Regions from separate parts of the Homo sapiens genome. Here regions 1, 2, 4, 5, 6 and 7 are each linked to region 3. Evidence: fine-mapped expression QTL. A gene starts in region 3. Each other region holds a variant in brackets. All regions are shown on one strand. Distances are from middle to middle.

Evidence for each region. PIP is the estimated chance that this variant, and not a neighbour inherited with it, causes the effect.
Region 1: its variant is fine-mapped to the expression of RASA3 in whole blood (INTERVAL, PIP above 0.99).
Region 2: its variant is fine-mapped to the expression of RASA3 in whole blood (TOPMed, PIP above 0.99).
Region 4: its variant is fine-mapped to the expression of RASA3 in fibroblasts (GTEx, PIP above 0.99).
Region 5: its variant is fine-mapped to the expression of RASA3 in whole blood (TOPMed, PIP above 0.99).
Region 6: its variant is fine-mapped to the expression of RASA3 in whole blood (TOPMed, PIP above 0.99).
Region 7: its variant is fine-mapped to the expression of RASA3 in whole blood (TOPMed, PIP above 0.99).

Annotation. Positions count from the first base shown.
Region 1 is chr13:113,995,698-113,999,760 of GRCh38, forward strand. RASA3 (RAS p21 protein activator 3) reads right to left here. Exons shown (of 24, transcript NM_007368.4): 20 at 3,888-3,970; 21 at 834-1,042. Among named protein-coding and RNA genes, the nearest start is that of C13orf46, 24 kb to the left of the region's middle. The variant C/T (reference allele first, on the strand shown) is at 1,671.
Region 2 is chr13:114,013,867-114,017,929 of GRCh38, forward strand. It overlaps RASA3 (RAS p21 protein activator 3), which reads right to left. Exons shown (of 24, transcript NM_007368.4): 12 at 3,371-3,485; 13 at 2,331-2,405; 14 at 1,343-1,466. Among named protein-coding and RNA genes, the nearest start is that of C13orf46, 42 kb to the left of the region's middle. The variant G/A (reference allele first, on the strand shown) is at 1,551.
Region 3 is chr13:114,130,860-114,134,922 of GRCh38, forward strand. RASA3 (RAS p21 protein activator 3) reads right to left here and starts at 1,764. Exons shown (of 24, transcript NM_007368.4): 1 at 1,576-1,764. The coding sequence starts at 1,630. It overlaps LOC107987192 (a long non-coding RNA gene), which reads right to left and starts at 144. Exons shown (of 2, transcript XR_001750050.2): 1 at 1-144. RefSeq lists enhancers at 190-689, 860-1,487, 3,776-3,955, 3,785-4,063 and silencers at 1,280-1,939, 1,970-2,069.
Region 4 is chr13:114,041,258-114,045,320 of GRCh38, forward strand. All of the region lies in intron 3 of RASA3 (RAS p21 protein activator 3), which reads right to left. Among named protein-coding and RNA genes, the nearest start is that of RASA3-IT1, 66 kb to the right of the region's middle. RefSeq lists enhancers at 2,080-2,219, 2,480-2,579. The variant C/T (reference allele first, on the strand shown) is at 2,370.
Region 5 is chr13:114,105,133-114,109,195 of GRCh38, forward strand. All of the region lies in intron 1 of RASA3 (RAS p21 protein activator 3), which reads right to left. It overlaps RASA3-IT1 (RASA3 intronic transcript 1), which reads right to left. Exons shown (of 2, transcript NR_046544.1): 1 at 3,509-4,063; 2 at 1,182-2,636. Among named protein-coding and RNA genes, the nearest start is that of RASA3-IT1, 2.6 kb to the right of the region's middle. The variant A/G (reference allele first, on the strand shown) is at 2,425.
Region 6 is chr13:114,151,496-114,155,558 of GRCh38, forward strand. No RefSeq gene overlaps it. Among named protein-coding and RNA genes, the nearest start is that of RASA3, 21 kb to the left of the region's middle. RefSeq lists an enhancer at 1-303. The variant G/A (reference allele first, on the strand shown) is at 2,324.
Region 7 is chr13:114,159,813-114,163,875 of GRCh38, forward strand. No RefSeq gene overlaps it. Among named protein-coding and RNA genes, the nearest start is that of CFAP97D2, 17 kb to the right of the region's middle. RefSeq lists an enhancer at 1,940-2,840. The variant C/T (reference allele first, on the strand shown) is at 1,620.

The DNA.
Region 1 (4,063 bases), 140 kb before region 3:
GGGCTGGCTGACGGAGGACCCAGCTGATGGGGGGCCCGGCTGACGGGGGCCCGGCTGACGGGGGCCCGGCTGACGGGGGGCCCGGCTGACGGGGGGTCCGGCTGATGGGGGTCCGGCTGACGGGGGGCCCGGCTGACGGGGGGCCCGGCTGACGGGGGGCCCGGCTGATGGGGAGGCCCGGCTGATGGGGAGGCCCGGCTGATGGGGGACCCGGCTGATGGGGGGCCCGGCTAATGGGGGGGCCCGGCTAATGGGGGGCCCGGCTGATGGGGGACCCGGCTGATGGGGAGGCCCGGCTGATGGGGAGGCCCGGCTGATGGGGGACCCGGCTGATGGGGGGGCCCGGCTGATGGGGGGGCCCGGCTGATGGGGGGCCCGGCTGATGGGGGGCCCGGCTGATGGGGACCCGGCTGATGGGGGGCCGGGAAGACAACGGGCTGCTGCGTCATGTGGAATCAAGGTGGGTGTCCTGGGCCAGACGAAGCTTTCAGGGAGGGGCTTGCTCCCAGCCTCCTCCTAGAGAAGCAGGATGGCCACGGCCTGGGGAGTCCCCCTTCACCCTGACCTCCCGCTCCCCCGGGGCAGGGCCTCAGGAAGACCCTCGAAGGCCTGTGGCACCCTGGAGTCTGCGCAGAGCCTTCCAGAGGCTGGGCCCCAGATGCTCCCTCGAGGGAGGACCCCTCGGGTGGGAGGCTCCTGGGAGGAGGCGAGGGCAGCCCTGTTTATGTGCAGCTTACAGGCAGGCATGCACTGTCTGCTGGTCCCTCCCTACTCAGCCCCTTGGCCACATTTCCTGCACAGTGCACGAGCTGGGCACCGAGGCACAGACCTACCCAGTGCAGGGCGAGCAGCCCGGAGCCGAGTCGGATGGCGCCCTACAGCACAGCCAGTGGCCGCTCAGGTAGGCGGACGGGTGGTAGACGGTGAGGCGCTTCTGGTTGCACTGGCTCACTTTGGTGAGAATGTCGATCCAGTCCTTGGCCTCCACGCAGTTGTTGGCCTGGATGTACAGCGCACGCTCTGGCTGGATGACCTGGAACATCTGAGGACACAGGTGGGCTCAGGACAGCGCACATGAGGTCTCGTGGCTGAGCACGTGCAAGAGTCCACCAGGCACCTGGCCGTCCTCGCCGGAGTCGTAAGAGGGGACGCTGAGGGTGCACAGGCCCAAAAGTCCTGGAGCTCTAAGCCCCAGAAGAGGCCAAGGCCAGGGGGTGCATGGAGCTCTCTGCCACCCTAAAACCTGACAGCTGGGGCCGTGGGGAATGGAGGTGAGAACTGGTGCAGCTGGAGATGTGGCCAGGTGGCCAGGAACAGCTTGGCCAAGGCCCTTTATGTCCTGGAGCCTTGGAGGTCTCCATTCAAGACAAAAGAGGGGCCCTGTGGCCTCCCCACAAGGCCCTCCTGCAGCTGACTGCAGGCATCCCATCCACGTGGTGCTCGTGCTGTGTCAGCCCAGGTGGCCCGGCCTGCTCAGCTCCTTCCCCAACTGACCAGCCCAGGATTCTTCCTCCTCCTCCCAGCTGGGGTTAGGGGGCTGCTTCCTCTTGAAGCGTCTCGGGGCAGCAACAACCTTTACCATTTATTACTCATTCAACAAACATGACTGAGCACCAGCACTCTCCTATGTCCCGGAGACAAAGCCTGGCATAGAGTTTCTACTGAACCTG[C/T]AGCCACCAAGAAAGACTAAACGAGGGCAGGTGTCAGCAGAAGCTGGAAGTGAGCAGTCCTGGTGCTGTAGTCGGCGTTGACTCAAAGTTAGTTAAGCAGGGGGTGGGGGCAAAGGGTGTCAAAGGCAGAAGAAATGGGAGGCACAAAGGTCCTGGGGCAGGTGGGACAGGGGTCCTGTGATTGGAGGGACAGGTCTCCCGGGGCAGGAGTGACAGAAGCCTTAGGATTAGAGGGACGGGGGTGCTGGGGCAGGGGGGACAGATATCCTAGGATTGGAGGTCAGAAGCTCCCAGAAGGAGCCGGCTCTGTTGCACACAGAAGACAGGTTTTCTGAGTAGGAGACTGACTGGAGGTTGGGAGGGCTCTCATGTGGGACTTGCCCTTAAGTCAGGAGTCAGGGGGACAGTGGCCTTCTCTAGGGGACGGGCCTTCTGCACTCATCTGGGGAGGATTTGGGCTCCAGGTTTCTGGTGAACAGCTGAGGTCTTATTTACAGAGGCCAGGAGCCTCCCGCCTTGCACCCGGCACATGTGTATAGGTCTCGGACTGGACGCCCCCGTGCATGGCTGTGATCCCCCATGGAGGGCGTCCTGGCCATCATCCCAGGCTCGGCCCTGCCACCAGGAGCAGCCTTCAGAAAGGTCTCCCCAGCTGGTGAGAGCCTGGCCTGGCAGTGGCCTCAGGGGAATCGGGCTCTGAGGAAGTCAGTGGGAATGAACAGCTGGGAACAGGCGGCTGAAACTAGGGAATTATTGGGAATCTATGTGAAGGGCTGGAGGTGCTTCCAGGACATGTCCACACTGCTTCCTTCGAGGGACGGTCTCAGGGCCAGGTTCCGGCCATCCCCCTCAGTCAGCAGGCATTGAGCCCACACCCTCCTCTTCCCATCTCCCCCTCTTCCCAACCCTTCTCTTCCCAGCCCTCCTCTTCCCAGCCCTCCTCTTCCCATGCCCTCCTCTTCAAATTACTCTCCAAACTTATGCCTTTTGCAGGATCTGTCTGGACTGCCTGTGAATAACATGCTAGTAAAATTCTGCCAATGGTAAGGAACATGCGTCAACTTTGGCACGAGGCCCAGGGACTGTGCCTTCCCTGCAACTGTTCTATGACCCTCATGCTGCAGTCGGGGCACAGAAGGCTTGTCCCAGCCAGCATGTGTCAGGGTACGGGGTCAGCCTCAGGATGGCACGGACGGCGGGGTCACTGGCTGAAGGGGCACTGAGTCACCAGGGAGAACGTGGCCAGCGGCCGACTCTGGGAGGCCACCACACAATGGTGACGCCACGGACACCTCTAGGGGATTCCCGCCAGAAATGCATCATCAGAACCTGCCACGTCGGCACATCCGACAAACCCACAGGGAGGGATGTCCAGAAAACCGAAGGCCTGCACGCCTCAAAGATGCCAAGGCCACCACACACAAAGAAAGGCTGGGAGTGTCCAGTGGGCCAGACGGAGGGGGCAGCAGAATGCAGCGCAGACTGGATCCAGAGGGGAAGGAACCACAGCCGGAAGAACGGGACTGGACAGCGGCAAACTCGAATGTGGTCGCGCCGGCGACGTGCGATGGTGGCTGCTGTGGTTTTGGGGACTGCACGGTGGGAAACACACTTGGAAGTGTTGATACATTCAGAAAAGCACGGGCGGGACCGTGAAGGGAGAAGGAACAAGTGTGACTGGGGAACGAGGCGACATGTGGGTCCGGGTCAAGCGTGACCGGGGAACGAGGCCACACGTGGGCCCGGGTCAAGCGTGACCGGGGAACGAGGCCACACACGGGTCTGGGTCAAGGGTGTGTGGAAAGTACTTGTTCTACTCGTGCAACTTCTATAAATTCAAAATTATATCAAAATAAAAAAGCTTCCAAAAGGAATTCCAGACGGTCCCAAGCCTGCTTCTGGGATGTCTTTGACAGAGGGCCCCTTGACATTGGGGACCCTGCGGGGGACGCCACCTGAAGCAGCTCAGGCCCCACCTTCCGGCAGGTTCCACCCCACCCCGGTGACCCCGGGCACAGAGAGTGTGGCTGCTTTGATGCGAGATTCCGACACAAACTCACCAGCACCTGGTGAACAACCCGAGTAACACGAAGACTCTGAGAAGCCTGGAGTGCAGTGGGTGGGGAAGGGTGAGCCCAGGGCCAGGTACGGGAAGAGAGCAGAGAAAACCTGGCCAGGCCTCAACCCGAAAGAGAGGCTTGGGGGCCCCACACTCACGTTTTTCATTTTGAAAGACTCCTCCTCCAGCTTCTCCACTGCCAGGATGTTCTCGATGGGAATGCTGTAGAGAGGCTGGTCCCCTGCAGCAGAGATGGACTGTCAGTGGGTGCGGGCCCCGCTGTCCCGGCTGGGGTCCGGGTGGGGCTGAGGGGTCTCTGCCGGGGGGTCTCCCA
Region 2 (4,063 bases), 120 kb before region 3:
TCTCTCTCCCTATCTCTGTCTCTCTCTTTTTCTCTCTTTCTCTGTCTCTCTCTCTCCGTCTCTCTCTCCCTGTCTCTATCTCTCTGTCTCTCTCTCTCTCTCTCCGTCTCGATCTCTCTCTCCATCTCTCTCCGTCTGTCTCTGTCTCTCTCCATCTCTCTCTCTCCGTCTCTATCTCTCTCTCCGTCTGTCTCTGCCTCTCTCTCCGTCTGTCTCTGCCTCTCTCTCCGTCTCTCCCTGTCTCTCTCTCTCTCTCCTTGTCTCTCTCTGTCTCTCTCCTTCTGTCTCTGCCTCTCTCTCCATCTCTCCCTGTTTCTCTCCATCTCTCATCACCACCACACAGCGCAGCCCCTTTGGTGTCTCATTCCACAGTGGTCTGTGCTCATCTGGGTGAGAGGATGTGTTTTATCTCTTCACTTCCACCTTGTTCAAAGTGGGTCTGGGGCTGGGATGTGCTTGGGAACTGCCTCCCCCAGAACCCTGGGCCCCTCGGCCGGCGCTGTCTGACTGTCTGATGTCCTGAGAATCAGGGGTGGGGACAGCGTTTGTCTCCTGGGGACACAGAAGCGTGGACGGCTCTGCAGGACCATGGCCACCCCGGGGTGTCTGCAGCTGTCCCGAGGCCACAGGACACGCAAGGAAGAGAGGAGCCGGCAGCAAGGCCCTCGCTGAGCCTCTCAGCGCCCCATACATAGCCTGAGTCCTGGCGGGGTCTTGAGTATCGCAGGTGATGGGTGGGTGCAGGCACCCAGCTCCTCCCTGAGGGTCGGCAAGGTTGAGAAGTGGGGTTTGGGTGCTGGATGCCCAGGTCCCTAGGGGATCTCCGGCTTGGGGGTTTGAAGAAAGGGCAGCTCCCCCAGGGGTCCTGTCTCTTCGAAGACACGGGCAGGCAGAGCCCCCAACACCACTCTGGGCCCTGCCAGGGTCGGCCACAAAAAGAAACCACTGGGAAAACCCAGGGGTCCACATCAGGAAAATTCACATTCCACCCCGACAAAGCCTGGCCACCCTTCCCGGCCCCCCCAGAGACCACTGTGGTCGTGAACTCCAGGGCTGGGCCCCTCTAGAGACCACTGCGGTGGTGATCTCCAGGGCTGGGGTCCCCTGGAGACTACTGTGGAGGTGAACTCCAGGGCTGGGGTCCCCCAGAGACCACTGCGGTTGTGAACTAGGGAACACTGGCCCGGGCACAAACCCCGGAAAAATCCAGCATCGGAACTGGGGTTCACGACCCCGCAGTTCTAGTCTAGCCAGGGCTGCGGGGGGTTCTGCCTGGGTGGGAGTCACCCTGCACAGCGCTATGGCAGTTTCTCAGCAACATGAGGGTGTTCAGGGCACTCACCCTGGAAGCGCTTGGCCGCCGCCTCCCGGAGGGAGAAGAAGATGTCACACATGACGGTCGGGCAGCTCACCCCAGACTCAGTGATGGCGTGGAAGACGCGGTCCACATACTGCCGTAGGTTCTCCTGCAACGGGACACGGCACTGGGACCCACTCCCGAGGCTGCCCACAGGTGCGTGTAGCACCAGGGCACGCCCAGGGAGGGGCGC[G/A]TGGGGAGGGGCTGAGGGCGGGCGCAGGGCAGCTGCGGCAGTGAGACACGTGTGAACAGCCACTCCCTGGAAATCTGTGCTGGGAGCTGTGGCAATTCACGCGTGAAAATCACTACACAGGCACCACGTCGGCTCCCCGGCTCGGCCCCGACCTCGTTTACTGAGTGGGGAATGGACGTTCACTAGAATGTGCCTGCCCAAGGCAAAGAGCTCTGTCATTTACATACAGAAATGACGAAACAGCACGCTCTGCAAGAAGTATCATGTGAAGTGACTAAAATGTTGGAGCAAGTTCAACATCAGGGAGTTTTGCTGTTTTAAAACGCAGTACACAGCTCTGGGGACAGCCTGGGGAGGCAGGGAGGCCATCCTGTCCTAGGAAAAGGGAGGGGCAGGAGCCATTGCCCAAGGGAAGGAGGAGCCGGGGCGGAGGCAGAGCTGGTCAGGATTGTCCAGGGGAGGCAGAGCAGGGTGTGCAGGGCAGACCCTCCGGGGGGGCAGAGCTGGGGCATGCAGACCGGATCACTCCAGGGGAGGAAGAGCTGGCCGGGACCCCCCAGGGGACGCAGAGCCCGGCACACAGGCCAGGCCAAAGGTGGTGGCTGAGGCCTCCCAGTAGTGCAGCCAGCGTACTGCAGCCGGGTGAGGCGGGTATCCCCACGCCTGGTCCTGCTCCCACCCCAACCGGGGTCACGGGGTGAGTCAGAGCTTCCAGGCAGCCATCGGCTGAAAAACCCCAAGCAGGTGACTGGCTTTGGTTGGTTCATGAACAAAACCTACCATGTTGTTTTCAAGGTTTTCTCCGTCTTTCAACTTCACAGGGTCGATTTCACAGGGTTTGTGGCTCTGGCATATCTGGGGAGAGGTTTAAGACAGGGCTCTGTGAGTGGGTTCTGGGGGCACAGGCAGGGAGGGTGGAAGGGGTCTCAGGCCTGGCTGAGATGTAGACCCTGAGCCTCATCCAGAAAATGCCACGACAGCTCCCCGAACCCGGCCACTGGCACGGAGGGGCACGGTGAGGCCGGACTGCAGGGCCACCGTGGGGTGGTGTCGTCCCGAGCCTCAGCTGCAAGGGGGCAACCCTGGGCCTGTGTCACTGGCTGCGGAGGGACAAGTGAGAGGTCAGGCGCAAACACTAGGCACGGGGCCCAGTCCATGGCCGCGATCAGACGAGCCGGGCTCTCTCAGGGAGCGATGTGCGCCCGCGATCAGACGAATCGGGCTTTCTCAGGAGTGATGTGCACCAGCCCACACGGACTAGGCCTCACAGGGCTTTAATAATATTTTTACTTCAAAATGCTGCCATGATTTTGCCCACAGAGCAAACCAGAATGCTATGTTCAATTTTCTCACATTTGCAAAGAACCTGTTTACAAACCCGCTCATAAACGGGGGGCACAGCCTGGCGGGCATCAGAGGGTCAGGTGAGGAGTGGGTGTGCGGGCATCAGAGGGTCGGGTGAGGACTGGGCGTGCAGCTCAAACATGCCACGCAGCCAGGGCCCAAACACAGGGGACTGCAGGACATGTGGAGAAAGAAGGTCTCCCTGGGAAGAGCCAGGCTTTTCTTGCATGTTCTCCTTTGTGGAGTGGTGGATTTTCTTATGTATAGTTTTAATTTGGGAGAATTTGGAAGGTTCTGGAGTACACAGGGAACATCCTCTTGATAAAAGTGAATGAATCAGCATCCCCGTGGCGAGGCCAGAGGGGCCGACATTCAAGCCCAGCTCGTGGTCTGGCTGGATCCCAGTGCAGTGCCCTCTGTTGGGGGAAATCCTCCCCACGCCTCGTGAGGCTGAGGACTCTCGGCCCCGTGCTCACCTCCTCGATGGCGGGCTTCAGGGTGACATGCAGGTAATGCATCCCCGCCAGCTTCATGGTCTCGTCGATGCACTTGGACGCCAGTGAGTTTCCTCGGAAGATGGTGTTGGGGTCCCTGGGAAATGGCGATGGGGACAGCGTTTGTCTCCTGGGGACGCGGAAGTGCAGACGGAGCAGAGCCTGGCCCCGAGCACCTGCCTGTGGGCTGTGAGGTCAGTGCACGCCCATCAGTCGGCTTCCTGACATTTTACAAGGAGCACAACCAGGCCAGGTGCTTGGAGGCCCTGGCCATGGAACCGTCCTGTGTCAACACTGCCAGAGGGAACCGTTCGGCTACCTGCGTGGCCACCAGCTCAGGAGGAGCCTGGCTGGCCTTCGCCCTCCCGCCCTCTCCCCTCTGCGGCCTCTGCCTGTGCAGAGAGTTGGGCACCAGACCCTGGCAGCATCCAAGGGCCAGCAGAGAAGCAAACCCTCCTGTCAGCTACAGTGGCTGCAGGTGCAGCCAGATGTTTCTAGAACAGGGCGTCCGGAAACAGCACTAGGCAGGTCCTGAGGGAAGCTGTGCTCCATTTTTGTGGGCTCCCAAAGTGCCCCAGGGAGGGGACCTGAGCTGTCCTCGAGCCCCAGGAGCCGTTTCCCCTCCCCACTCACTCACTCTACCCGGGATTTCAAAGGCAAATGGGACTTTCAAAA
Region 3 (4,063 bases):
TGCTTCTCACACTCCTCAGACTCGCTGGCTGAGCCAAGCAGCCTTGGCTGAAGGAAAGAGCAGCAAACTGACCCCCACGGGCCGCGACCTTTCCCCACCCAGGCAAGGCGACCTCAGGCACTTCAGGGAGCGCCAGCTCTGGCTTTCTTGTATGAAAGTGACAGCGGATTTAAACCACATTAACAAAAGAAATCCCTCCTCTCTGGACTACTCAAAGCGGAAGTGCTGCCACATCCTAGCTGCAGCGCTTCTGGGCCAAATATCAAGACAGTGTCTCAGCGATGATCCGCAAACCAAAATAAAGCCGACAGGAAACAGCCCGCTGGTTTAGGGGAGCTGGAATGCCTCCGGCAGCATCAAATGTCATCAACAACTGACACTCAGCCCGTTCCCGGAGGCCTCTTCACACGGGAAGAGGCCGGCTGCGAAGTGCGGCTCAGTGGGGGAGAAGGACCGTGGGGACCGCGACACTGCAGGCCCTGGAAGCCTCTCCAGCCTGAACCGCGCTGTGGTCCAGCACACTCATGGCATGAATATGGAACAGTCACTCCAGGAAACGGTCTTGCTCTGGGGGAGGGGGAGGACTTCCACATCACTCTCCCAAGATAAAACAACCAGGGAAAAGCAGATCCCTCCAGATAAACCAGAAGTCCAGACACAGCCTCCTCTCCGGAAACGCCTCCGGGAGCCCACTTCAGAAGCTGCTGAAGCCCAGAGAAAAACCGCAGCCTCGCAGGCCCTGGTCGCCACCAGCTCGCCCGCCACTTCTCAGTGGAAAGGGACGTGGTGCCGATGGGTCCGGGGTCTCCCCGCCCCGCGGGAGCCCTCAGCCAGAACGCCCCACCAGCACACACGCACACATGCACACACACAAACGCGCGCACACACACGCGCCCACACACAAATACACACGCGCGCACACATGCATCCACACACAAATACGCACCCACACATGCACCCACAAACGCACGCGCACACACACCGCCCACACATGGACACACAAACACAAGCACACACAAACACGCGCGCACGCAGGCACAGACGCGCGCGCACAGCAGCAGCAGCGCGCCGGGGCCTCACGCCCCTGGGGAGAAGCGTGAAGGAGCCTCCACATTCCCCGGAAAGGAAGTTTCTGGGCGCAGCGGAGAAAGGGAGATGCCGAGACCCCGACGTCAGTGGATTTGACACCTGAAGTGCAGGCGCCCAGACAGCCTCAGGCGCGCGCACTCCTGCAAACACGCGGGGCACACGCTCGGGCGCACACGCGGACAGACGTCCCTCGGCGCAGGGACCCCACCTCCTCCGCCGCTACCAGGGACCGGGGCCGCTCCGGGCGCAGAGGAGGCGCAGGGAGCCGCGTTACCCCGGAGCCGACTCGACCCAGCCCGAGGCCCGGGGAGGCGGGGAGGTGGGGAGGGGCCGCGGAGCCGGACCAGCCGTTCTCCGGGGAGCGCGCCGCGCCTGGAGGGCGTCTCCGCCGGGGTCCCCAGCAAGGATCTGCGGAGGGGAGGCGGGCGCGGGAGAGGACAGGGTCGGGCCGGGGGGTCGGACGCGTGGCTGCCGGCGGACACTCACCGATCTTGATCTTCACGCTCTGGAAGACCCGGAGCCCCTCGTCCTCCACCGCCATGCTGCGCGTCCGCGCCCGCCGAGCCTCGCCCCAAGCGCGCGCCGAGCCCGGGCAGCTCAGGCCGAGCAGGAGGAGCGGCGGCGCCGGAGCCCCGAGCGCGGCCGAGGGTCCGCCCGCCTGCAAGACCGCCAGTTGGCCGAGGGCGAGGGCGGGGACCGGGAGGCTCCGCCCGCGGCCCGGCCCCTGCTCCCAACTGGCCCGGGCCCTGCAGGGGCGGGGTTGGCAGGGACGGCGCTGGCGGGTGGCGGAGACCCGGGGGGCGCAGGGATCGGCTTCCCCCGAGGCCTCGGCCCCCGCCCCCGCCCCGCGGATTGGCCGCTGAGCGGAAGGGACCCCAGCGGGCTGCCTGGCGGAAGAGACGAAGGAAGGTCGCCGGCGCGGCCCGGGCCCGCTGAGCGAGGCTGAGCGATTGACTCGCGGACGAACTTTGCCAAGAGAAGTTCACGTACAACGATCTGGCAGGGGAGGAATCCCGCGCCCAGCCCCAGCTCCTGAGATGCGATCCGAAGGCACCTGCTGCAGACGCACGAGGGGGGCGGGGACACATACACGCACACACAGCCCCCCACCCCAGACCTCCGGCATGGGCAGGTCCCCCCCCCAAGTCCCCCTGCAGACCCCAGCATGGGCAGGTCTCCCCCCCCCCAGTCCCCCTGCAGACCCCGGCATGGGCAGGTCTCCCCCCCCCAGTCCCCCTGCAGACCCCGGCATGGGCAGGTCTCCCCCCCCAGTCCCCCTGCAGACCCCGGCATGGGCAGGTCCCCCCCAGTCCCCCTGCAGACCCCGGCATGGGCAGGTCCCCCCCCAGTCCCCCTGCAGACCCCGGCACGGGCAGGTCCCCCCCCAGTCCCCCTGCAGACCCCGGCACCGGCAGGTCTCCCCCACCCAGTCCCCCTGCAGACCCCAGCATGAGCAGGTCCCCCCCCAGTCCCCCTGCAGACCCCAGCATGAGCAGGTCCCCCCCCCAAGTCCCCCTGCAGACCCCAGCATGGGCAGGTCCCCCCCCAGTCCCCTGCAGACCCCGGCATGGGCAGGTCCCCCCCCAGTCCCCCTGCAGACCCCGGCATGGGCAGGTCCCCCCCCCAAGTCCCCCTGCAGACCCCGGCATGGGCAGGTCCCCCCCCAGTTCCCCTGCAGACCCCGGCATGGGCAGGTCCCCCCCCAGTCCCCCTGCAGACCCCGGCATGAGCAGGTCCCCCCCCAGTCCCCCTGCAGACCCCGGCATGAGCAGGTCCCCCCCCCAAGTCCCCCTGCAGACCCCGGCATGGGCAGGTCCCCCCCCAAGTCCCCTTGCAGACCCCAGCATGGGCAGGTCCCCCCCCAAGTCCCCCTGCAGACCCCGGCATGGGCAGGTCCCCCCCCAGTCCCCCTGCAGACCCCAGCATGGGCAGGTACCACCCTTACCTCCCTTTCTTCTGTCTCGAGGTCTCCTCCTCCCTGACCTCCTCTCTGAGGAGTATGTTTGTGTGTGTGTATGAACTGTAGGTGTGTATATGAACTGAGACTACACTCCCTCCTCTATGTTGCAAAACTTCATTGCACCCAGTGCCACACACACACCCTACACATATATACACACATACATATACCACACATACACTACATATACATATACATACACATAGACACCACACACAGACACCACACACATACTACACACGTGTACACACATACATATACACACATATACACACACCCTACATACACACACCACATATACACATGAACACATATGTTCATATACACACAACACAGACAGCACACACATATACTACCCATACACATGCACAGACATACACACTAAACATACATACACACACCTACGTGAACATACACAAACACACACACACTGCATGGAGAGGAACAGGAGCTTCATGAAGATAGAGGCCTATTTTTTTCCACTGCTTACCTTCACTTCCTAAAAAGCAGTTCCATGCGTTGAAAGAATGAATGGCCTTTCTTCCCCTGACTGCTGGGAGCCTGCAGCCACAGGGGCCTCTCTCATCCTCAGCCCTTGCAAGCCTGGTGCTCACTGGGGCAGAACAGGAGGTTAAGGCGGCACCCCTGGTTCCAACCCAGAGCCTCTGCGTCTAGCGCTGGCCCTGGGTGGCGTCTGCAGTGGGTGCTGTGGACGCCATCCACACCCCTGCTTTACGACGGAGACTATGCTTCCGTTTGGAGCCACTGGAAGCAAGCCGGCTCCTGTGTTTCTCCGAGGACCAGTGGAGTCCTCTGTGGCAGCCCAGCCACAAAGCTGCTTCTCTGCCATCCCTCCACCCTCACAGGCCTGCTGATAAACTCAACGCGGATCTCGCTTTGGTGTTTGTTTCCAGGCGACAGCTGGGGTCAGGAGTGAATCTCCAGACTGCAGCAGTGGCAGCCAGGACGGGAGCCCCTTGGAAGGAAATGCACTGGCAGCGGCAGGATCTCGGG
Region 4 (4,063 bases), 90 kb before region 3:
GGAGGCCCAGGGGGGAGGGTCGCTTGAGACCAGCCTGAGCGATATGGTGAAAACTTGTCTCTACAAAAAATAAAGGAATGAGCCGGGCATGGTGGCACTGTATCTCTAAAAATTGATATTAAAAAGTCAAAATAATCAGGTGCAGCGGTAAGTCTCCACTGTGTCCCTTCCAGTAAGGCGTTCCAGAGGCTTCGCTGTGAAGGCGCGAACGTCCGCTCCATCGGCAATGTGCGCCTCACTTTCACTGTGGTCCGTGGCCAGTTCTCACAGCAGGAGGTGCCTCGGAGCTGGCTGCACCAGAGCTCTGATCTCACAAATGAACACCCCGTGCCTCACACACCACCAAGGCAGCAGCATCACGCCACAAGAGACACGTGTGCACCCGTGCGAGCGACAGCCTGAAACACACGTGTGCCTAGGGTGCTTTCCGTGTGTGTGGACACGCACGTGTGTGCATGCATGTGGGTGCTCAGGTTATTCACAGGCAGGACTGAGAGCCAGAATGAGCTGCCACCTTCCCACGCGACGTGGGTTGGTCTGAATCTGTGCCTCTAAAGTGTAATGAATGAGCCGCCTTCTGGGACCCCTGGAGAGCCTGAAAGTGTAGATTCCTGGCCTTCTCCAGACGGAGGAGAACAGAGGCTCTGGTGTGGGCTGGAATCTGCACCACCACAGGTCCCTGGGCACTTGTGTGGGCCCCAAAGTCTGGGAACGTCCACTCTAAACAGTTTCCCGTGCCTTAAACAGGCTTAGTACTTTGGGGCTACGCTTCCAGTGAAAATACGTATCAGAATATATTTGTACAATATACGTTTACCTAGTATGGATTTATATGTGTAAATTCGCATCTGCAACCATTATTATCTGCTTATACGTTCACCTCATTCCAGAAACATTCCCGAGGCGCGGCAAACGTGTGCCCATCCCATCCCCGGCAGGACAGGGCTTGTCAGGCGCTGGGCACCGAGCCATCTCCCATCCTGCGTCCCTTCATGGCACCACCATGTCAACCCTGCCAGTGGCCTCCGCACACTGCGGACCACGCCACCCACCACGGTGAGCACCCACGGCAGCACATGCACCTCTGTTGACCGATGCACGTGAACTCCTAGGGAGTCGCACACACATGTGAAGTCTGAGCCCATCACAGAGCACACACGAGAGCAGGAGTGAGGAAGGAAATGTTGGCAGACTCCTCACGTCTTCGTTCTGCACCCAGAGACACACACGCCCTCCTTAAGGATCTTGGTCCAGTCACTGAAGTGAGAAACTCTGGGTCCCCGCAGACCCGGTTCACCGCAGCGTCCGCAGCCACAGGGTCTGAGCACATTGTGCATGACCTGGGCTCCCGGGAGCGGCCTGGGCCTCCTACCCGGCCACCCTGCCTCACGCCAGGACAGCGCAGCCCAGCCCCGGTTCTCTCTTCCAAGGAAGATCCTTTTATATTTCCGTGTCTCAAAAAACTTCCGCAGGCTCCCATCGGAACAACCCTGGCCTGGCATCCAGCAGCCACATGCTTGGGCCTGATTCTCTGTCCAGCCTCAGTAAATTCGGGAACACTCCACTGCCAGCCTCTCACAGGTGCCATCTCAGTCGGTCCTGCGGTGACCCTGGAGGAGCAGGTACCACTCTGCACACCCCACAGACGAGCAGGCCGGGGCTGCAGGGAGAGGGAGCTTCCGTCCCTGCCTTCCTGCCAGCGTTCCTTCCTATGTTGGCGTCCCCACCCTGCGAGGTCCCAGGACGCATCTTCCCTCAGGAGCTCCTCTGCCTCGCGGGCTCATGCGAGCGAGACCTCTCAGCCTGACTGGTCCATTCCGTGACTAATCTCAGAGCCCGTGGGCCTGGGCCACCAGGCCCCTCCTTTGTCTGCAAACTCAGAGGGTCTGAGACACGCCCAGCTCAGCACCAGCTCCAGACCCTATGGGACAGCGCAAGGTCGGCCACATGATGGAGCACCACATGGCCACAGGACATGGTGGGAGGTGCGGAAGGTGGAAAGAGGCACAAAGACGCTTTCCAAGTGCCCAAAGGAGAGAGACGGAATCAGGACAGTTTGCCTCCAGTGCTGCTGACACCTGCCATGCACGTCAGCATCTTCATCTGATGTCCTCAGGGGAGCCGGCTGCACCTCACACCATCCACTCTGCAAAGCAAAGCAGCCCTGGGAACAGCCCTGGAAAAAGCCCCTTCCCAGCTCCGGGACCCCCGCTCACAGCCAGGGCCGGCCAGTTCCACAGCTACCCGGACGTAGATACAGCACACAGGCACTCATGGGTTCCTAAGATCAGCCTGGTGACCTCATCGGCTCAGCTCTTGCCACACAGACATACACAGGCCATCTGGAGCTGCACGGGACGCTGAAACCA[C/T]CACTGAGGGCAGGCGAGAGCCAAATCAAGAACCAAGGGGGCCGGCACAGGAAACAGGCCCCAGCACATGTGGGAGAAGGAACACCAGGGAGGCTCAGAGAGAAATCCAGTGACACACCACGTGGACTCCCTCCAATGGCCTCTAATGGCGCAGACCACGAGGGTGGACGACAGCCAGGACACCTCCGCCTGGCCCACCTCACTCGCTGAGCCCCCCGCCCCGCCTCACTCGCTGAGCCCCCCCGCCCCGCCTCACTCGCTGAGCCCCCCCGCCCCGCCTCACTCTCTGAGCCCCCCCGCCCCGCCTCACTCGCTGAGCTCCCCCCCGCCTCACTCGCTGAGCCCCCCCGCCCCGCCTCACTCGCTGAGCCCCCCCCGCCTCACTCGCTGAGCCCCCCGCCCCGCCTCACTCGCTGAGCTCCCCCCCCCGCCTCACTCGCTGAGCTCCCCCCCCGCCTCACTCGCTGAGCCCCCCCGCCCCGCCTCACTCGCTGAGCCCCCCGCCCCGCCTCACTCGCTGAGCCCCCCCGCCCCGCCTCACTCGCTGAGCCCCCCCCGCCTCACTCGCTGAGCCCCCCGCCCCGCCTCACTCGCTGAGCTCCCCCCCCCGCCTCACTCGCTGAGCTCCCCCCCCCGCCTCACTCGCTGAGCCCCCCCGCCCCGCCTCACTCGCTGAGCCCCCCGCCCCGCCTCACTCGCTGAGCTCCCCCCCCGCCTCACTCGCTGAGCCCCCCCCGCCCCGCCTCACTCGCTGAGCCCCCCCCGCCCCCCCCGCCCCGCCTCACTCGCTGAGCCCCCCCGCCCCCCCCCCGCCCCGCCTCACTCGCTGAGCTCCCCCCCCGCCTCACTCGCTGAGCCCCCCGCCCCGCCTCACTCGCTGAGCTCCCCCGCCGCCTCACTCGCTGAGCCCCCCGCCCTCCCACCGGCAGCCCTGGGCGGGCGCCTTTGACTTCAAGGGTCCGGAGTGGGGGCTCTGTCCTCTCCTCTGACGACCGCTGCGTGGCTCTTGCATAACCTCCCCTTTCCCCCACAACACGAACCTCAGTTTTGAGTCTCACAGGAATAAAGCCACATGAAAGCAAAAACTTCTTAAAACTGAGTTGGGCAATATATTTCAGTGAAAAGGGATAAATCTTCAGACTCCAAGACGCCTTCAGCTGGACAGGAGGGTCAGTTTTGAAGTCTGAAGTTTTAAATACTTGCAATGTCACTGTGTCTTCACATTTTTATGAGCTGAAACTGGGACGGGAGAAGTCACATATTTACGTGGATAAAAATCTTGTAACTGGCACATGATTACAAGTCTTTAATTTTAGAAGTACTTCACTTAATTTTTTAATAGGTAACACAGAAACAGAACAAAATCCACAACATTCAAAAGGATTTAAAATCCCTTCGAGAAGGGATCCCTGCCCCTGCCACCTCATTCCCGACGTGGGGTCACTTCTGTCACCAGCCCCCAACCTTTCCTTCTAGAAGCCAGCCACATTCAACAATGGGGACCGTGGACATTTGAAGCATGCGTGTTCGTATCTCCAGATGCTGACCTGAGAGAATGCCTGATCTAAAAGCCACGGCGTCTACTTAAATTTCTCTGATGTGCCTAATCCACAGGGTTGTCCCCATCTATTTGAGTCACACCGAAAAGTTTACCGAACACTCTGGGCCTCCCTTTCTCACTTGGGCAAAGGCGG
Region 5 (4,063 bases), 26 kb before region 3:
GGTAGTCTCCAGGGCCAAGCCGTCACCTCAGAAGGGTGGGTGGGGCTCTCCCCAGGAGGAGGGCAGGTCCGGGACTGGGAGGACGACCCCCACGCAAGCCCCCACCCTGCCCTTGGGCTCCAGCCTCATCCCCAGCAGCCGCCAGCCCTCTGAGATGCCAGGGTGCCATGGACCCTGCACTGAGGGGTGCTCACTGGGCAGCCGTGTGACCAGCAAGCAGAGGCAGGTTCACAGCAGCAGTGGAGCTCTCCAGAGGCAACTCCACCAAGGGGTGCCGCAGAGCTCTGTACCCCCAAATTTATGAGGAGCCCGGCTTTGGGAGGGGACACCTAGGGGAAAAGGGCTCAGGAGGCCTCAGCCAAGGAGGAGCAGCACTGGCAGCCCCCCTCCTCCAGCACGGGGACAGGGACCACCGGCATCGAAGCTCCTCACCTGCCTCCTGCCTGACAAGGCCACAGGCACATCCGGGGCCAGCACTGACCAGACGCTCCCTCCGCCTCGCTTCACCCAGCCTGAGGCTGGACGGGAGGCACTGGCGTCTGCAGCACATCCACAGCATTCCAGAAACGACAGAAACCAGGCCAGGCTCTGAGCAGCCCGTCCGTTGTCCTGACACCTGACCATGACGGCATATTTACGGTGTCTTCTCAATCTTTGAAAAATATTTTTAAGAGAACATGAGAACAAATCAATATTCCAGTGGCCTAAGGAAGTCAGCTAGCTGTGAAACTATTACGGTAAGCTACACAGTGGGGGAATCAGCGTGGGGGAAAGGAAGCGGGCATTCCACAGTGCAAGACTCTGACACACAGAGCGTCTTGCACCCGCCCTGAGCTGAGCAGTCCTGACCCTAAAGAGCTGCCATTCCTCTGGGGCCACGGCAGGAAATCGCAGGCACTGAGTGGGAGGAAGAGGATGACCGGGTGTTGGGATGGGTGCACATCGCAGAGCGGCACACGGCAGCCTCCGGATGGGCGCATGGCAGAGCGGCACACGGCCTCTGCTGTCTTTTCCGATGAACTTTCAATAATACATAGAAACATATGGGTTTAATGTTTCCTGTGTGTGTTTACAGATGTGTGTTTAATATTGAATATGTGTGCGCGCACCGTATCTCCACGGAGCAAAATAAGAATGGAGAGAAACTAACGCAAAGAAAGACGCTAACGTGCCAGGCTTTCAGTGGGGACAACTTCTCATTCTTGAAAACTTAAAATTAGCTTTTCCAAAACATCTATAAAGCAACAGAAATGCTTACAAATTTAACAGCATTTGAGATTATTGTAAATAAAAATGATAGGTCTAATTTTTCTTTTGCCAACATTTCCTTCGTTTATATTGACAGTCAACTCATTACGTGTAACAATAATGGCAATTTTTCCTAATGAAGTTTAAACATAAAATATAAAACAATGTAATTCGGAGCTTTGTAAATAAATGCCCATTTTACTTAGCGTAGGTGTAGAAATTCACACCCAAGTCCCACTTAGAACACGCTTCCCGCTCCGGAGCATAAGCCCCTGGCGTGGGGAGGGGTTGGGCTCTGTCTGAACTGATCACCACCACTGCTTTATTAATTGTTTTTGGCTTAACACCTGAACCAGCTGGGTGCAAACTATGACACACATTACAAAACCACCTGTCCATCCTCCAGGCACATGGAAGGCACACGGCCCACAGAAACCAAACTATATGCTGCGTCCCATTTAGAAAGCTCTGCGTATGTTTAAAATTAAAAGTCTTATAAGGAAACTATTTTTCTGTATTTTAAAATGTTCTTAATTACAAAGAAATAGATATTCATTCTAGCCAGTTAAGTCTCCAGGTAGAAAAAGTTAACTCTTTTCCCTCCCTCAGCCAGGCCCCCCCAGAGCCACATCTGGCAAGGACGGCTTGGTGTGCACGCCCACACCTCCTCTCTCGTGCACGGCCACATCTGGATCAGATGTGCAGGCATTTCAACATGGCAGTCTCCATCCAGCCACGGTCTGCGGACAGCGTTCAGGCTCCAGCCTTGACCCTGGGCACCTTGACCCTCACGGGGTACGTGGCCTGTGTGTCTGCCTTTGTGTCCTGGTCCTCGCAGGGGACAGGCCTGTGTGTCCCACGTTCGTGTCCTGGTCTTCGCAGGGGATGTGGCCTGTGTGTCCCTCCTTCGTATCCTGACCCTTGCGGGGGACGGGCCTGTGTGTCCCTCCTTCGTGTCCTGACCCTCGCGGGGGACGGGCCTGTGTGTCCTGCCTTCGTGCACCCTGACACCATGGGTCTGATTTTCCCACGCTGGAGGTCTGCTTCTGAACAGCTGCATCTCCTCCTGCAGGGGAAGCTGTCTGTTCACCCAGGTGCCTGTCCTGTCTGAGGGCTGGGCTCTTCCTACCCAAGGGTTGGGGGCTGGCCTGTCCCTCATGACCCAGGCAGGCGGCC[A/G]GGGCTCCCCGGAACTCCAGGCTGCTGCGGGTGTCTGCTCTGCCCTGGGTGAGGCTCTAGAAGATTCCTGTGGAAGCGACTGTGTCTAGGGGAGCCCATTCCCCAGTTTAAAGGACGTCCCCCCCCATGGCTATCCACATGCCCAGTCCTCTCAGGAAGTTCCAGGCTGCCAGGATCAGAGGAAGCAGAAGCCGCTGTCCTTCAGCAGGACCCTGCAAAAGCAGGATGAATCAGCGGGGCCATTCAGAACAAGGTTCAAATTACTGCTGCACTTTTCAGAATGGAGCCAGGCTCAGTGTTTCAGAACCAGAGGCTGACGCGGATCAGCTCGCACCCAGCCTGGGACCTGAGCCAGCCCCTGAGTGCCACTCTCCACGGCCGCCTCAGAGGGTAAGCCTCTCCAAGCCTGCTTCCTCGCCGGCATGGTGGGGGTGGCCCTGCCATCCCCTAGGGGCTCTGCGGGATCCCCTGAACACTACGAAAAACCTGAGCCCCACTCCTGGCCACTGGGTAAGGACCTCTCCGAGCCTTTCTCCTTCCCATTCACTCCCACCCCCAGGCAGGAGCGACCAGTGCTGAGAAGTCCTATCATCCCACAACCCATCATCCTCCGTCATCCCCTGTCCGTCACCCCGCAGCTGTCATCCCCCATCACCCCGTGTCTGTCACCCCGCGTCTGTCACCCCATGTCTGTCACCCTGCATCCGTCACCCCGTGTCTGTCATCCCCGTCCGTCACCCCATGTCTGTCACCCTGAAACCATCACCCCATCTGTCACCCCACATCCGTCATCCCGTGTCCATCACCCCGCGTCCATCACCCCCATCCGTCACCCCATGTCCGTCACCCCATCCATCACCCCGCGTCCATCATCCCCCATCCATCACCCCCCGTCCGTCATCCTCCGTCCATCACCCCACGTCCATGATCCCCCGTCCGTCACCCCGCATCCATCACCCCATGTCCATCACCCCACGTCCATCACCCCATGTCCATTATCCCCTGTCTGTCACCCCGCGTCCGCCATCCACATCCCATCACCAGGTGCTGTTTTCTTGGTGCTAGAGCAAGGTGGGATTCACACCTTGTGTGCACAGCTTCTGAGTCACTGGGCGGCTGGGCACAGCCTAACTCAGGAGCAGGGACCCACGGAGGGTGTGGCGACGACACAGCCCTCAGCTTGCTCTCCAGGAGTTCTTCTGATACCTCGAGGACACTCTGGACCCTGTGTCTGGGTCCCAGCCCTTCCGTAACAACGTGGCTCCTCTGAATCAGTCACAAGGAAGATCCAACTTAACACAGAGAGTTTTTCCCAAACAGCAGAACTGGCAGCAACACAGGCATCCTGCAGTTCAGTCCACTGCATGCAGCGTGCAGGTGTCGGAGGGCGAGGCTGCCGTGGGCTCCCGGCGGACGGTGGCAGGGCAGGCCCAGGTCTCTATCACAGCAAGGCCTCTCCACTCGGCCCCCTCCACCTGTTTACAACCTCAAGCTGGGTCAAAACCCCAGGGGTACTCAGAGGGAGTGTTTCTCCCCAACTGGATTCCTTAAGCCAGAGGGCAGGCGGCAGGGTCCTGGCCTGACAAACACACACGGGCCCCCGAACACGACCGGCTCCGTGACCGTCACAGGACGTTCA
Region 6 (4,063 bases), 21 kb after region 3:
CACTCATTGTTTCTGAACTATCTTTAAAAACAACTTTTAAGAAATAAGAAAAGCTATTTCCAGAGCACTCACCAGTGCCACGTGCACACGGATCATCTAATTCTAGGGGGGCAACTGCACGGTTTGCCCCCGACCGTCCAGTGTTAGTGTCCAAGGAAGCCCCTCAGTTCCGAGGTGAACCAACAGAACAGATCACCCTGTGAGGTATGAAGTGTTGTCCTCTGCATTCGACAGATGAGGAGGTTACAGCTGCGAGACTGTAGGCGGTTGCCCGGGCGCTCTTCCAAGTAGGTAGCAGGGCCGAGTGAATGAGCCTAGGCACCGCCCGGTATTGCTGCAACAGCCAGGCGGCGCTTTGACTTCTGGGTCAGTGTCACTGCCTACCTGAATCACTCACTTCCTGTAAAATACTTGATTCCAAATTACTTTGGTCTGTATTGAAAAATAAAATTCAAGTTTACCTTTAAAGACAAAGATTTGCCATATTTAAGGATATTTTAGAGAACGTGCTACTGACTCTGAAGAAGAGGCATAAAACCGCCTTGAGGAACGGCATCGTCTGTGCTGAAGCAGGCAGCGCCCAGCTGACGACTGTCAATGCAGCCCTAGCAAACACGGCCACGCTGCCCTCCATCCAGGGTCCTGTCCAGTGCTGTGCTAAGCACTTCACGTGGTGACAGCTAGCTGCACACCAGGCACGGTCAGGTGCTTAGCGTTTATTAAGTCGTTCAATTCTTCTGTAACCCCATGAAATGGATGCTATTGCTAGAGCTGTTTTCTACAGAGAATTTAAGGATTTTGCCTAAGGAGATGTCACCAGCAAGTAGCAGACCATGGTTTGAACCTGTCCCCCAGTCCCAAGTCTACACATAACTGTTGTCCCACGGGTGATAGGTGTGACAGTCCTAGGCTCCAGCTCTTTCCCCGGCGCCACAGTGCCTGCTGTGCTTGGAGACACCACCCTCACCTGACTGGGAGAGCTCCACTCAAGGACCCGCACAAAAATAATCCCAGCTTCCGTGGTTTCCTCACACCATTCCCCGCTCACAGTTTACCTCCCTAGGAACCCAACACTGTTTTCCTGTAGCTCATCACTTCACAAATGTATTGCCTTTTGTTAAAATCGTGAATAAGCCTCTGGTCTGACTGCCTCTGCGGGGTTTTTGTCTCATTTCGTGAAGCCGCCACATGCATATGAAGTAACGCTTTTTCTCCTGTTAATCTACTTTTGCCAGTTCAATTTGCAGGACTCCAGTCACTAAAAAACATAAGTGAGTGAAGGAAAAGTTTTTTTCCTCACCACCTGTTTGTTGGAAAGCAAGTAATGGCCCACCTGGTATTCTTTTGGTCAAGACACAACGGGGAAATGGGGCTCCGGTCAGGCCCCTCAGGTTGGGCCTAATTGGAGCAGAATCGGAGGGGCCTGGGCTTCTTGCTGCCAGTGGCAAATGTCCAGTCAGGAAGTCACACGGGCAGCAGCAATGCCGGCAAGGGACGCTTGTAGCAGGAACGGGGCAGCCTCCCTTACTCAAACAAGACGCGGACTGCCTGAGGCCGGCAGCTCAGAGAACAAAAGGCAAGTGTGAGGGGGACGGGGTCAGTACTCAGAAAGCTCCATGTGCCTTCCTGCTGAAAGCAACATTGAAAGCACAACATGTGCATTTGGTTAAAAACGCTGAGGGCTTGTGCTGGGAGGCGGCAGTGGTGGCCTCAACCATCTCCCCGTCCGCCCGCATGGCAACCACGACGACTATTTCCTCTGGTCAGGCATTTCCAACCTCCTCCTGTTATTACAACACTCTCTACTCACTAATTTTAGATAGAGTCTGTGCCAGACTTCCGACTACGATAGTGAGAATTCAGCCAACTTGCTCTGAAGAAATCATACAGGGCCTAAACTTTCTGAGTCCGTATGAGTCTAAAAATATCTTTATTATTCCCACACACTTAATTTAGGGTCCAGGATAAAAGCAGATTTTGCCGAGAGCCTAGAGGCATCACTCCACCATCTCCACCACTACATCCCTCCATCATCTCCATCACTACATCACTCCACCATCTCCATCACTGCATCACTCCACCATCTCCATCATCTCCATCTCTCCATCACTCCATCACTCCATCATCTCCCTCATCTCCATCACTCCATACTCCATCATCACCATCTCCATCATTCCATCATCTCCATCATCTCCATCATTCCATCACACCATCATCTCCATCATCTCCATAGTCTCCATCACTCCATCACTCCATACTCCATCATCTCCATCACTCCATCATCTCCATCATCTCCATAGTCTCCATCACTCCATCACTCCAT[G/A]CTCCATCATCTCCATCACTGCATCATCTCCTCATTCCATCATCTCCATCATCTCCATCACTCCATCATCTCCATGCCTGTTGACATTTTCTCAGGACCTGCCTGCACGCCTCGACCTCTGCCTTGGAAGGTCTGGGCTGCTGTGTTTTCTGCTTGTTTCTTGCACACAACGTAAAGTTGGGTTTCACTTTGCGAATGATCCCACGAGTCTTTTTGTTGAAGAGGTGAGTCGAATTTATTTACTTATGTAGACTGAGAGGAAGGATGCAGTGGCCCTTGGTTTTGTCATATTTCATGTTATAGTTTCTAACCAATCCTCTTTTAAAAATTTCACTAAGCATTCTGTGTTCCACTGTGGGTGTGTCTTGATTTGGAAGGTTGATGTTTTTGTTCCAGGAGATACGTTTGCTCAGTTTTCCTTCCCCTTGTGGCCACACTTCTCTGCTGCTCTCATCGTTTCATTTGTGCCTTTCCCGTTTTTTGTCTGTTGGTTTGTCTGTGCCATGGTGTGATCCTAGCTCACTGTCACCTCCAACTCCCAAGCTCAAGCACCTCCCGCCTAGGCCTTCAAAGTGCTAGGATTGCAAGCGCCGCCCCACGCTCAGCCCCTTTCCCTTGTTAAAAAGTGCCTTACTCTCAAGAGGCTGAGGCAGGAGAATCGCTTGAACCCGGGAGGTGAAAGTTGCAGTGAGCCGAGCCGAGATCGCGCCATTGCATTCCAGCCTGGGTGACAGAGCAAGACTCTGTCTCAAAAAAAAAAAGCCTTACTCTGTCTGTGTCTAGACCCTGTGGGGCTTCTCTGGTTAAGGGGGCCTGTCCTCCTTAGATGAGCTGTCCCAGGAGGCTGCTACTTCCTGCAGCTGCTGAGGCTCACCCTCCTCTTTCCACCACTGAGGCCCAAGGCTCCAGTTGCTCTGAGGAGTGTGGAGGCCCGTGAGGTGTGGGGGTGCGGAGTGGCCGTGGAAGGTGTGTAGGGGATTGCAGTTGGGGTTGGGTGCTGGATGTGCAGGTAGAGTATAAGGGTAGGGGGTTAAGGTGTGGGGCATGGGGGAGATTGGGGAGGTTGGGAACATGGGGCAAAGTGGTGGGGGATGGGGGATGCAGGGGTGGGGATGGGGGATGCAGGGGTGGGGTGTGGAGTTATGGTGAGTGGGGGGCTGTAGTGGGGCGTTGGGGGTGGAGGGGGCTGTGAGGGTGTGGGGTGTGGGTCATGAGACATGGGACAGTGGGGGCTAACGGGGTGGGTGGGGTGTGGGGTGTGGGATGCAGAGTGTGGGAGCTCAGGGAGTTAGAAGGTCGAGTTAGAGGGTGTAGGTGTGGGGGCATGATGGTGGGGCCTGGGGGAGGGGGAGGGTGCGCAGGTGCAAGGTGTGAGGGTGGAAGGCTGGGAGACCGGTAGTGTGTGCGACTGTGGGGTGTGGAAGTGGGGGACTCAGGGGAGGAGTGGGGTGTGGAGGTGTGGGGCACGGGGTGGGGGGTTAGGGAAGGGTGGAATGTAGGGGGAGTTTGATGTAAGGGTGGGGGCTATGAGGAGGGGTGGGGTGTGAGGGTGAGGGTGGGGGCTTTGGGCAGGGTAGAGGTGTGGGGCATGGGGTGGAAGGCTGTGGGAGCAGTGGGGTATGGGGTGCAGGGCATGAGGGTGAGGGGCTAAGGGGAAAGTGGAGGTGTGGGGCATGGGGATGGAAGATTAGGGCCAGTGGTGGGGTGTAGGGGTGTAGGGTGTTACCTGGAGGGGGAAGG
Region 7 (4,063 bases), 29 kb after region 3:
CCGTGACTGTGTCCTGAATGGTATTGCTGAGATTTTCTTCTAGGGTTTTTATAGTTTGGAGTTTTACATTTAAGTCTTTAATCCATCTTGAATTGATTTTAATATAAGGTGTAAGAAAGGGGTCCAGTTTCAATTTTCTGGATGTGGCTAGCCAGTTTTCCTGGCACCATTTATTAGACAGGAAATCCTTTCCCCATTGCATGTTTTAGTCAAGTTTGTCAAAGATCAGATGGCTGAAGATGTGTGGTCTTAGTTCTGAGTTCTTTATTCTGTTCCATTGGTCTATGTGTCTGTTTTTGTGCCAGTGCCATGCTGTTTTGGTTACTGCAGCCTTGTCTGAGGTCAGGTAACTGAAGCATCCAGCTTCGTTCTTTTTCCTTAGGATTGTCTTGGCTATATCGGCTCTTTTTTGGTCCCATATGAATTTTAAAGTAGTTTTTTCTAATTCTGTGAAGAACGTCAATGGTAGTTTAAAGGGAATTGCATTGAATCTATAAATTACTGTAGGCAATATGGCCATTTTCACAACATTGATTCTTCCTGTTCATGACCATGCAGTGTGTTTCCATTTGTTTGTGTCCTCTCTGATTTCCTTGAACAGTGGTTTGTAGTTCTCCTTGAAGAGGTCATTCACTTCCCTTGTTAGCTGTATTCCTAGGTATTTTATTGTCTTCGCAGCAATTGTGAATGGAAATTCATTCATGATTTGGCTCTCTGCTTGTCTATTATTGGTGTATAGGAATGCTTGCAGTTTCTGCACATTGATTTTGTATCCTGAGACTTTGATGAAGTTGCTTATCAGCTTAAGGAGATTTGGGGCTGAGATGATGGGGTTTTCTAGATATAGGATCATATCATCTGCAGAGACAGTCTGACTTGCTCTCTTCCTATTTGAATAACCTTTATTTCTTTCTCTTGCCTGATTGCCCTGGGCAGAACTTCCAATACTGTGTTGAATAGGAGTGGTGCGAGAGGGCATCCTTGTCTTGTGCCAGTTTTCAAGGGAACGATTCCAGCTTTTGCCCATTCAGTATGTTATTGGCTGTGGGTTTGTCATAAATGGCTTTTATTCTTTTGAGGTATGTTCCATCAATACCTAGCTTATTGAGAGTTTTTAACATGAAAGGATGTTGAATTTTACCAAAGGCCTTTTGGTAGCAGGTCATCTTTACAAATGTTGTATCTACTCCTGACTCATTTTCAAAGCAGGACTCACCGTGACCCCCCCTCATCCCGCAATTGTTCCACTGCCTCGTCATTCGTCCCCAGCTTGTGAGAACGCTCACGTTGGCCCTCCGTGCCCCTCCTGATTGTCACCCACTGGGTGAATCAGTTTCCTGAGCAAAGGTTCGCCTCCAATGAGGTCAACGCACATGTGGCAGGGACCCAGTATGGTTTGTTCGGAAACCCGTTTCATGCGGAGCCAGCAGAAGCCACGTTAAACGCACGCGTTCTTCCATCCCTCTGCTCACCGGAAGCGAGCTTCCCAAGGCGGGCACGGCGCCGCCCCCCCAGTCACGCGGCTTCCGCTTCCGGTCGTGCCCTCTCGCCTCTAACTAGAGAACGCCTCGCGGTGTGAGTGAAACTCTGGCGGCCTCGCTAACACGCCAAACCTCTGT[C/T]CTCAGAATACGAAGGGCAAAGTGTGTCCCACTCACGCGCAGGCTTCCCCGCGGCGGCCACAGCGGCGGGGGGCGGGGGTCGTGCTCACCGTCGTCCAGTTCACCGGCATGTTTTCAATCAGCCATCACGAGCGAAGTGCTGCTTCGTGTCCACCAGGGAAAGCTTCAGGGAGCACGTTATTGGCACTCAAGATGCCAGCCATGGGCTGCCTGGAACGACGGTTTTTATCATTTATGTGAGTCCTGGGACATTTTCTTCCAACAGACCTAAGTATGTATGACACCAGCATATTACACGAAGCCGAGAGGGGGCTGCTCTGGGTGAGCGTGGAGGAACACACGACCCCTCCCACGCTCACGTGCCCACAACCTCCAGGACAGCCCAGCCTGGGTGAACTGCAACTTCTTTAGCTCAAGGGACATCTGCTTTTCCCCAGAGGGGCCCCTGGTGCAGAAGCAAGTTGGGGAGTGTGCAGAGCCGGGAAGAAGCAAAGCGAGGGTATGGGTGGGAGGGAGTGGGAATCCTTGGATTTGGCAGAGAACAAGTAAATTTTCGGAAATCATAGTCAGCGTGGTCTCCACAAAGATGAGAGGGCAGGAACTCGATTGGAAGGGGGCCAGTGAAGCTGCTGTCAGGAAGCTCTCACAGGGCAGTAAACAGCTCCTGGCACCCGGAATAGGAGGAGGAAGTCGAGAACCCACAGCCGCCCTGCCCAGCCTGGCTCCTCCTCACCCGCCCAGGCTGCTGTGCTCCTCACGGGAGGAAAACCCGCCTGCGTCCAGCTACCTCCAGGAAAGCAACAACTGCCCGTCCTCGACTAAAGGCCAAACCTTTTAACATTTTTGTCCTTGACCACGGCATCAGCTGTGCTGTCTACAGAAGGAACTATATTATTCCCACTTAAATAGCTCGGTGTTTCGTCAAGAGAGTGCAAACACGAGGGCTTCGGTAGAGGGAGGAGACACTGGCTCAGGAACCAGAGCTCACGGTTCCTGCTGTCTCTGCCCCTTGACCTCGGTGTGAGGCGGCTGCGACTGGGTCTCTGCTGTGTAAATATTGTGCCTGAGGGCCATTTTGACAATGACCGTTTCTACTTTAAAAACAAAGCAGACCAAGGGAGTCTCTGGTCCAGGGATAAGGTGCCTGCAGTGCTTTTCCGACACCTAAATCTCTGCTTTGTCCTGAGAGAAACAAGCGTCACGAACTTAGCTCACTGTTGGTGAAGTGACGGCCGCCAGGGAAGAGTGCAGGGATCTCAGGAGAGACGCTCGGGTCCTTTTTCAAAACCAGTGTGATGCACGATATGTGACTACTCGCCAGAGTCTCGGGAGAGTGTGACGAGCGATGGGTGGCTACTCACCAGAGCGACTGGATTTCTGTCTGAGGCTACTGCATATGCTGGGTCTTAGCAAGCAACGGCCATGCGGCCATCAAGGCACAACAGAGAGCTCTTCTTCTAGGAAGTTCGAGGCATTAAAAATTTCCTCCACTGGGAGCATGAGCATAAATATCTTCCATATTGTTCCCAGTTTTTCTGAAGGCGAAAGAAAATAAAGAAGGCCAGTCAATTAGAAATCTGAATTTTTCTATTAAAGAAGGCAGGGGTTAGCCGGGCACAGTGGCTCACGCCTGTAATCCCAGCACTTTGGAAGGCCAAGGTGGGTGGATCACTTGAGGTCAGGAGTTTGAGACTATCCTGGCTAACATGGTGAAACCCTGTCTCTACTAAAAATACAAAAATTAGCTGGGCGTGATGGCAGGCGCCTGTAATCCCAGCTACTCGGGAGGCTGAGGCAGGAGAACTGCTTGAACCCGGGAGGCAGAGGTTGCAGTGAGTGGAGATCGCGCCACTGCACTCCAGCCTGGGTGACAGAGTGAGACCCCATCTCAAAATAAATAAATAAATAAAAATAAAGAAGGCGGGGGTTCCTGTCTCTATTTTTCCAGGAGAACAAATATTACCAATGTACAAAACTAGGGGGAGACAGGAGTGACTTTACCTCACTGCCAACGCCTCCAACACAGTCTCCATTCACAGGTCAAGACAGAAAAGGAGTTTCCTGGAAGACTGCAGAGTCTGCCACAGACCCAGGGCAGCTGGACTTCCTGCAGATCTAAAGCCAGGGCTGGAAAAGCCACCCAGAGCCCATCAGGCCTCCTGGACCTGCTTCTTGGTCCCTCTTCTCAAAGTCCTCTCCCCTGAAGGCTATTTCCCCTGCCTCTCCCTCATCTCATCTCCCACAGTCTCCTAGTGTCTCTGCCAGCCACATGCCGAGAGAACCAGCTGCGCCCCAACACTTCCAGTCTCTAGAGAGATCATTTCCGTGATCCATTCAGCTGGGCCCAGGCCGAGGGCAGGGGCAGGAGTGGTCATGTGTTAAGAACAGGGCAGACTGGGTGGGTTGTGGGTCGTGGGGAGCTGGGCAGACACCCTGCAGGGCGT